Linked DNA regions of Homo sapiens. The protein of the gene in region 1 purifies or fractionates together with the protein of each later gene. This does not show direct contact. Each region holds a gene or a part of one and is shown in the gene's direction. Other genes may lie near its edges.

Region 1 (3,826 bases):
GTACAAAGTTTCAGTTATGAGAGATAAGCCCTTGTGATCTTTTGCACAGAATAGTGACTTTACAGTCACTATAATGCATTATAAATAATGCATTGTATATTTCAAAATTGCTAAAAGAGTAGATTTTAAATTTTTTTTCCACAGAAAATGATGTGTGTGAGATGATAGATTTGTTAATTAGCTTGACTTAATCATTCCACAATGTAAACATAGCAAAACATCACAGAAATATATATAATTATTGCTTGTCAATTGAAAATGAAATTTTTAAAAGTAACTTTCTCAGAGAGGCCTTCTCTAACCATCCTCTCTGCAAAAGTCCTGCCCCAAGTGAATTTCGATGACCACACTCTGTGTATTGTTTACTTGCACTTACCCTAAACCATAAATGTTTGTCTGCATGTTCATGATTGGCCTCCCTTTGCCAGCCTGTAAGTTCCACTGGGGCCTGTAGTGGGCAGAAGTTACCTGAGAAGCCTTTGACTAACATTGGAGTAGGTCAAAAGATGGTAAGAGGTGATTTTTTTTCAAAGTCAGGGAATTCATATCAATGGAAGGTTGACCAGAGTTCCTGAAGAAGGAATTGTTAAATAAACTCTAAGATCCCTTCAACCCTAACATTTTAACTTTTCCATCTGGTATTTGAAAAATGGAAGGGGCTCAGTTCCAGTAATGACGGCATAGCCTAAGTTGAACTAAACCTCTCACAGATGATAATGATAAACTTTGGAAAAAATCTTTAAAACGATTTGAGGTTGCTGGAGAAAAACAAAAAATAGACAGGAGGTGGACAGGATTTGACCCTTGAAGGAAGGAAAACCACACCCACTTAGTGAAATATACATTTAGGTGGCTCTTCCCACGCCACCTGGCATGGAGCAGCTGGAACTCAAGTGGAGAGCTGCAGCTTTGCTGGTTTGACAAATCAGGGGGCAGAGTATAAGCTCACAGAGTGGCTGGAAAATGAGGACATCTAAAGAGATGCCCCAGGTCCATGTGCCCACTAAAATCAACTGGCACCTCTGTTGAACCTGTGATGGTTCTGTCTGTCTCTCAGCCCAAATCTGCTTTTCATTCCTGCCCACAGTTGTTGAGCATAGATGGAAGCACTGCCTAATAAACTTCCTGCTTGCAAGTCACCATGGGAGTGTCAGCTACCTGGGGAATTGGACTTGAAAGCAGTCTAAGTAATATTTGTAGAGCATTACACCCAGCAACCACAAAATATGCATTCTTTCCAAGTGCATCTGGAACATTCATCAAGGTAGACTGTATTGAACCATAAAATTAATCTTAATGAACGGCAAAGGTTTAAAACCTTATAGACTGTGTTCAAGAATCACAAATGAATTATATTAAAAGCATTAACAAGACAATAATTAAAAAGCACTGAAATTTGAAAATTAAATGCATGTTTTAGTAATACATGGGTCAAAAAATTATAAGGGATAAACAGAATAATTTAAAATGAATGATAATGAAAATATGTCAGAATTTCTGGGAGGGAAGCACATTGCTTTAAATACTTATATTGGGGAAAAAAAGAGTTTAAAATTAATGATCTGTGTTTCCAGCTCAAGGCTCTAGAAAACAGAATAGCAAATTAAACTTAAACCAAAAGTAAGGAGAAGAAAGGAAGTAATAAAAAACAGAAATAAGTGAAATAGAAAACAAACAATGGAGAAATTGAAAAGGCTGCAAGTTGGTGCCCTGCAAGAGTAATACAATTTATAAATTCTTAGCAACATGGATCAGTCAAAAAGAGAGAAAAAGCAAATTACCAATATCAGGAATATCAGGAGGAATCATAAGATCCTACAGAAAGGATATGTTATGAACAACTTTATGCCAGTAAGTTTCACAACCAAGATGAAATGGACAAAATGCTCGAAATCACATATTGTCAAAATTGAGATAAAAAGAAAAACAAAATATGAATAGCTTTATAAAAGAGATTGAATTCATTATTAAAAACTTTCCCACAAAGAAAAACCAACCCCAGATGGTTTCACTGTTGAATTCTGCCAATAATTTAAGAAAAAAAACACAATATTACACAGACTCTTTCAGAAAATAGAAAAGGAGGGAATGCTTCCCAACCTATTTTGTGAGGTTAATATTACCCTGATACCAAAACCTAGCAAAAACATTGCCAAAAAATAAAACCACAGACCAATGTTTTTTTGTCATGAACATAGACACAAAAATAGCAAAATATTATCAGATTGAATCCACCAATATATAAAAAGGGTAATACACTATGATCAAGTGGGGTTTATCCCAGGAATGCAAGTTTGGTTTAACATTTAAAAATCAATCAGTATAATTTACCACATTGTTAAGCAAATAAATGGTTTCAAAAACATATAATCCTCTCAATAGATTTAGTAAATCACTTGGCAAATTCAACTCCCAAATGATAAGAACTCTCATCCAAATAATAATAGAAGAGAACTGCCTGAATCTAATAAAGTGGATTTACCAAAAACCTCTAGTTAACACCACATTAATGGTGAGATACTGAGTGTTTCCCCCCTAAGATTCGGAACAAGGTAAGGTGTGTGTTTTCATGATTTCTGTTCAATATTGGAGGTCCTAGCTAGGACAGTCAGATAAGGGAAATTAGTAAAAGGCATTCAGATTAGAAAGAAAGAAGTAAAGATCTCTATTTATAGATGACATTATTTAAATAGAAAGTATCAAGGAATCTATAAACAACTAGTAGCAACAATACTTGAATTGAGCATGTCAGTATATTGAAAATAATATTATACTAGCAGCAAACAAATGGAAAGTGAAATTTAGAAAACAGTGTCATTTTAAAAACATGCAAAAAACCCCAAACGAAATAGGAATAAATTTAGCAAAATGTATGCGAGATCTCTATATTGAAAATCACAAAAAAATTTCTGAGTAGAGGGGTCTACTGTGTTCATAGAGAACCCAATATTGTTCAGTGACAATTCTACTCAGTCTATGCAATCTCGAACAATATTCCAACAGACTTTTTCATAAAAGTTGATTTTAAAATGCATATGAAAATAGGACCTAGGATATCTAAGACAATCTTGAGACAGAAAATTTAAGTTGGAGGACTCACTTTACCTGATTTTAAAACTTTCTGGAAAGCCATAGCAATCAATAAATGTAAGAATAGACAGAGAGATCAGTGGAGCATATTAAACATAGTCCAGAAGTAGGCCCACACATGTACAGCCAATTGGTGCCAACAAGGCCACCAAAGCAATTTAGTGGGAGAAAAATACTTTCATAAATGGTGCTGGCAACCTGGATAAATGAACGGGGCTGAAAATGAACTTCATACCCTACTTCATACCACTCAAAAATCAAGTTTAGTTGGATCCCCGACCTCAACAGAAAAGCTAGAACTATAAAGCTTCTACAAGACACTGTAGGATGGTATGATTGTGATCTTGGGGTTGGCAGATTTTTTTTTTTTTTTGGGACAGAGTTTTGCTCCTTTTGCCCAGGCTGAAGTGCAATGATGCGATCCTGGCTCACCGCAACCTCCGCCTCCCAGGTTCAAGTGATTCTCCTGCCTCAGCCTCCCAAGTAGCTGGGATTACAGGCATACACCACCATGCCCAGCTAATTTTGTATTTTTAGTAGAGACGGGGTTTCTCCATGTTGGTCAGGCTGGTCTCGAACTGCAGACCTCAGGTGATCCACCCACCTTGACCTCCCAAAGTGCTGGGATTACAGGCGTGAGCCACCACGCCCAGCCTGGCAGAGATTTTTAAGAACAGACACAGAAACACTAACCATAAATGAAAAATTTGATAAATTAGGTTTCATAAAAATAAAA
Region 2 (3,826 bases), on another chromosome or scaffold:
TGCAGCATCCCAAGATTCCCCAGGCCAAGAGAATCCTGAGACCTGCTTCTAGGACCTGCTGTGCTCAGAGTAACTAGGGACCCAATTTGTTGTTTTTAAAATGAAGGAATTGAACTGCATGATCTGGAGCCCTTCAGAGCTAATATTCAGATATAATGCTGACTCTCCCCTGTGTGGAAAGTGGTCTAAGCACATCTGTCTCATCGGATGTAGGCTGCATTTGGAACATGTTTTCCATACACGGTAATGAGGTGCTAGCATTTCTAATAAAGTTTTCACTGTTGTGCAGGGTAGAACCAGAGAGACCACCTGTCAACAGTGACTTTCCAGGCCAGTCAGTGTCTGTTTCACACAGACTTAGATGTATGAACCTATGCAGTGAGATACCCTCGACACTCATAAGATACAGGGCGATAACCTGGTGACTTAGGAGCCCCAGTCAGTTCGTAGTCTTGATGATGCTTAAGCACATTGACAAAGGTGAGAATAAGAGGCAAAGGCCTTGAACTCTTCAGTGTCCTTGCTGAGAAGTATGAGTTTCTAAGACATGTGCAGAACAAGAAGTATGCAGCCTGAGTGTGACCGTAACTAACCCTGCTTGTGTTTCAGGCCCGCCATGTTCATAGAGGATAAAGCAGTAGACACCCTGGCTTACCTCAGTGACGGTGACGCCCGAGCTGGGTTGAACGGACTGCAGCTGGCGGTGCTGGCTAGGTTAAGCTCTAGGAAGATGTTCTGTAAGAAGAGTGGGCAATCCTATTCTCCCAGTAGAGTTCTGATCACAGAGAATGACGTGAAGGAGGGCCTACAGCGATCCCACATTTTATATGACCGGGCAGGTAAGTAATTCACCTGTGGAAAGAGTGAAACCATACGGAAAGAAGTGTGTGCACACATTCTCATTTCCGGAAGCCTGACTGGGTTCCGGAAGCATTCCAGCTGGGTCCAGAGCATTCCAGTGATTCTCAGGTGGATCTGCATGTTGGTATTAAGCCTTCTACACAGGGCTGACCTTTCCGAAGAGAGGCATGAAGCAGAAGCTGCCCTGTTGAGAATCTAGAGGAGTTTTGGGGTTGGAAATGGCAGGCTGCACATTCACCTTAGAAGGTAGTTGGCTATTCCCCACCTTGCAGAATACAATCACCTTTGAAAGCCTGTGCATTCACTTGACAATGAATATGTTTTGTGATCATTTACAACGGCAGTAAATAAAAAGAGGACTTTTGTCATAATGACTTATTAGTTTTAATTGAGAATTAAAATGCTTTATTTCTAGAGTCTATACTAAAAAATAGTCATGGATCTTGAAGTTTTTATTTTATGTAGTAGCTTTTTCAAAAATTTAATTTTGCTGTGTGCACTTATCTGTTTTTGTAGAACTGCATTTACAGATAGCAGATTTGATACCAGCTCTTATTAAATCTGTGACTTAGCAATATTAAATGTCATTAGCACAGCACATTTGCATCTTTTTATAAAAGAAGTGGGAGATGAATATAACATACTGTAGATTAGCAAACTTCTGCTGCTTGAGCATTTGTGGGACTTTGGATGGAATCATGTTGCAGTAACTGTGGAATATAATTTCCACACTTTTCAAAGCTCTGCCAGAAAAGGAGGCTGATAATTGAATGTTCCTGATCTCACGTAGGCTGTGCCACGTGACAATGGAGAGTCCTTACTGGTTAGAGAAGGGGTGGAGGGGCTTAAGAATGACTTTGGTTCCAAGCGCTGCCTCTTCGTGGGTGAGCACACTCGCTGCATGACCTAGGGGGGCTGACCAAAGCTTTTTGGCTTTAGCGTGCCTCAGCTGATGGTAGCTCAGGGGTGTTCATTAGTGCTAAGGACACACTGGCAAGTTGAATAAATAATCCTGTCTACATTGTGACGTGAATGTGCCTCAGCGGGGCCTGCTCAGATGGCTGGCTCTCCCTAGTGCTCTGGAGCATGACGTGAATGCTTGCAAAGTCTGAAAAGCAACACATTCTAGGTGTGTAGAGCCCTGCTTGACTTTTGGTCAAATAGAAAAAATGTAGATATGAACAAGAAAAAAGATTTTAAGACATTAAAAAAATCTCACCATGCCGGGATCGCCATTGTTTCTGAAGTGCAGCAGCAGCGGTCTCTCTCTCTCTTCTTGTAGGTGTCCCAAAGGATTTGCCTTGTTTTGATTGGAACGACTAGGACTGTTCTTTGACATTTTATCAGACTGTCACTTGAGATCCATATAACATGGCATTCACTAACACTCAGCCATTGAGTATTTTATAGGTGTATTCATTTTTTAAATTCTCAAAATTGCTTTATGGAGATAGCTATTAATATTACCCCCATTTTAAGATAACAAAGCAAGTGGTGAAACTGACCCGTAAATCCAGGTCTTACTGGTTCCCAAGACTGTCCTTCCCCCCGTCCGCATTTGCCTCCACACCAGCCTTGCCATGCTGTTACTGATCTCACCCATTACATCATGCTCCTGAGAGGGGTCACCCGTCCATGCACATACAGAGCGGATCTTGGAGGGGTTCAGTCCTAGGAATCCCACTTCCTGAGCTCCACGTTGCAGAGCTCTGCACAGTGGGGATCACCTTGTCTATAGCTTGGAGCTGGGGGGTGGTGGAGGCTGCCTAGTGCCGCTGCCTAGTGCCAGCGCCTTAAGAACCCCACATCCTATACATCTTCCCAGTATGAGTGTGTTTACACACCCCACCCCAGTGCAACATGTCTGCCCCACAGTGGATCCGCAGACACATAAATATCATTCAGATCTTGGAGAAAGCTGCTTTTACAGGCTTTGCTCTATAAATAGGGATAGTGGAAGCATTGCCCTGGAAACCTGTTAGCTTATACTCTTGGGCCTTTTTATAACTCCAGTGAGACAAAGACCCACCCCCAGAGTTGTGATTATTTTTGTATATGCCACCTAGTTCATAGTTACCCACTAGTAGGATCCAGTGATGTTTCTGCATCAGAGTGAAGGAATTTCTAAATGAGAGCAAACTCTCTGCCATGCATTGACATCGGGGTTCTATAGAAGTCGTCAGATTTCAGGTTATAAAGCAGTGTGTAATAAAAGCAAACATGGAAGGTAGCATAGAATAATACTAGTATCTATCACTGATGCAAAAGAATCTTTTTACAGTGCCTGCTCTGTGCCAGGCGTGTGTTATTTAATACAGCCCTGTGAGGTAAGTGGTCTCGTTTTTCCCATTTTACAGATGAGAAACCTGAGGCACAGTGAGGATCAGGAACTTGCCCATGGCCCATGAGCTTGGGGGTCCAGCCCAGGCTGTTTGGTCCCAGAGCCTGTGCTCTTGTCCATTATACTGGTGGTATTGCCCCTGGCATTGACAAAGTGGGAAAAGATGACTAACCTGTGTAGGGGGAGTTTAAATTTGACATAAAGTGGTGTGGGTAGTTTCTTCCAGCCCCCATGCCCGTGAGTTTAGCCAGGCCTGTTACCTGCTACCCTCTTCCCCGCCTTCCTCCACCCTGCAGAGGAGCAGAGCGTAGCCTGAGTGCCTGGGCCAGCAGGGTGAGGGAGTGGGCCAGAACCATGCAGATGTCATCCAGGACACCCTCTCGGCCAGTGTCCATAGCACTCTGACTTCACCAGGGGAGCCCTGCACAGGAGACACTCAGTTTGTTCTCAGAAATCCAGTAGCTGGGCTGACCCATCCATCTGCCCTGGCTCTCAGAAACCAGAATCACTCAGGCTGAGCCGTGGGTCCTGCAGGTCTTTCCCCTGTGGGAGGCCAGCATCTTCGCTTGCTCTCTTCTCCACCTGAAGACCAACTGTCATCTTACCAGCGAGCTCAGCTGCCAG

The links.
Region 2: the proteins of SYN3 (region 1) and WRNIP1 purify together in Homo sapiens (co-immunoprecipitation; one large-scale study listed by IntAct). This does not show direct contact.

What each region holds. Positions count from the first base shown.
Region 1 is NC_000022.11:33,009,870-33,013,695, reverse strand, and holds part of SYN3 (synapsin-3), read left to right. Parts: intron 1-3,826. UniProt on the Homo sapiens protein: May be involved in the regulation of neurotransmitter release and synaptogenesis.
Region 2 is NC_000006.12:2,778,654-2,782,479, forward strand, and holds part of WRNIP1 (ATPase WRNIP1), read left to right. Parts: intron 1-609; coding exon 610-839; intron 840-3,826. UniProt on the Homo sapiens protein: Functions as a modulator of initiation or reinitiation events during DNA polymerase delta-mediated DNA synthesis. In the presence of ATP, stimulation of DNA polymerase delta-mediated DNA synthesis is decreased.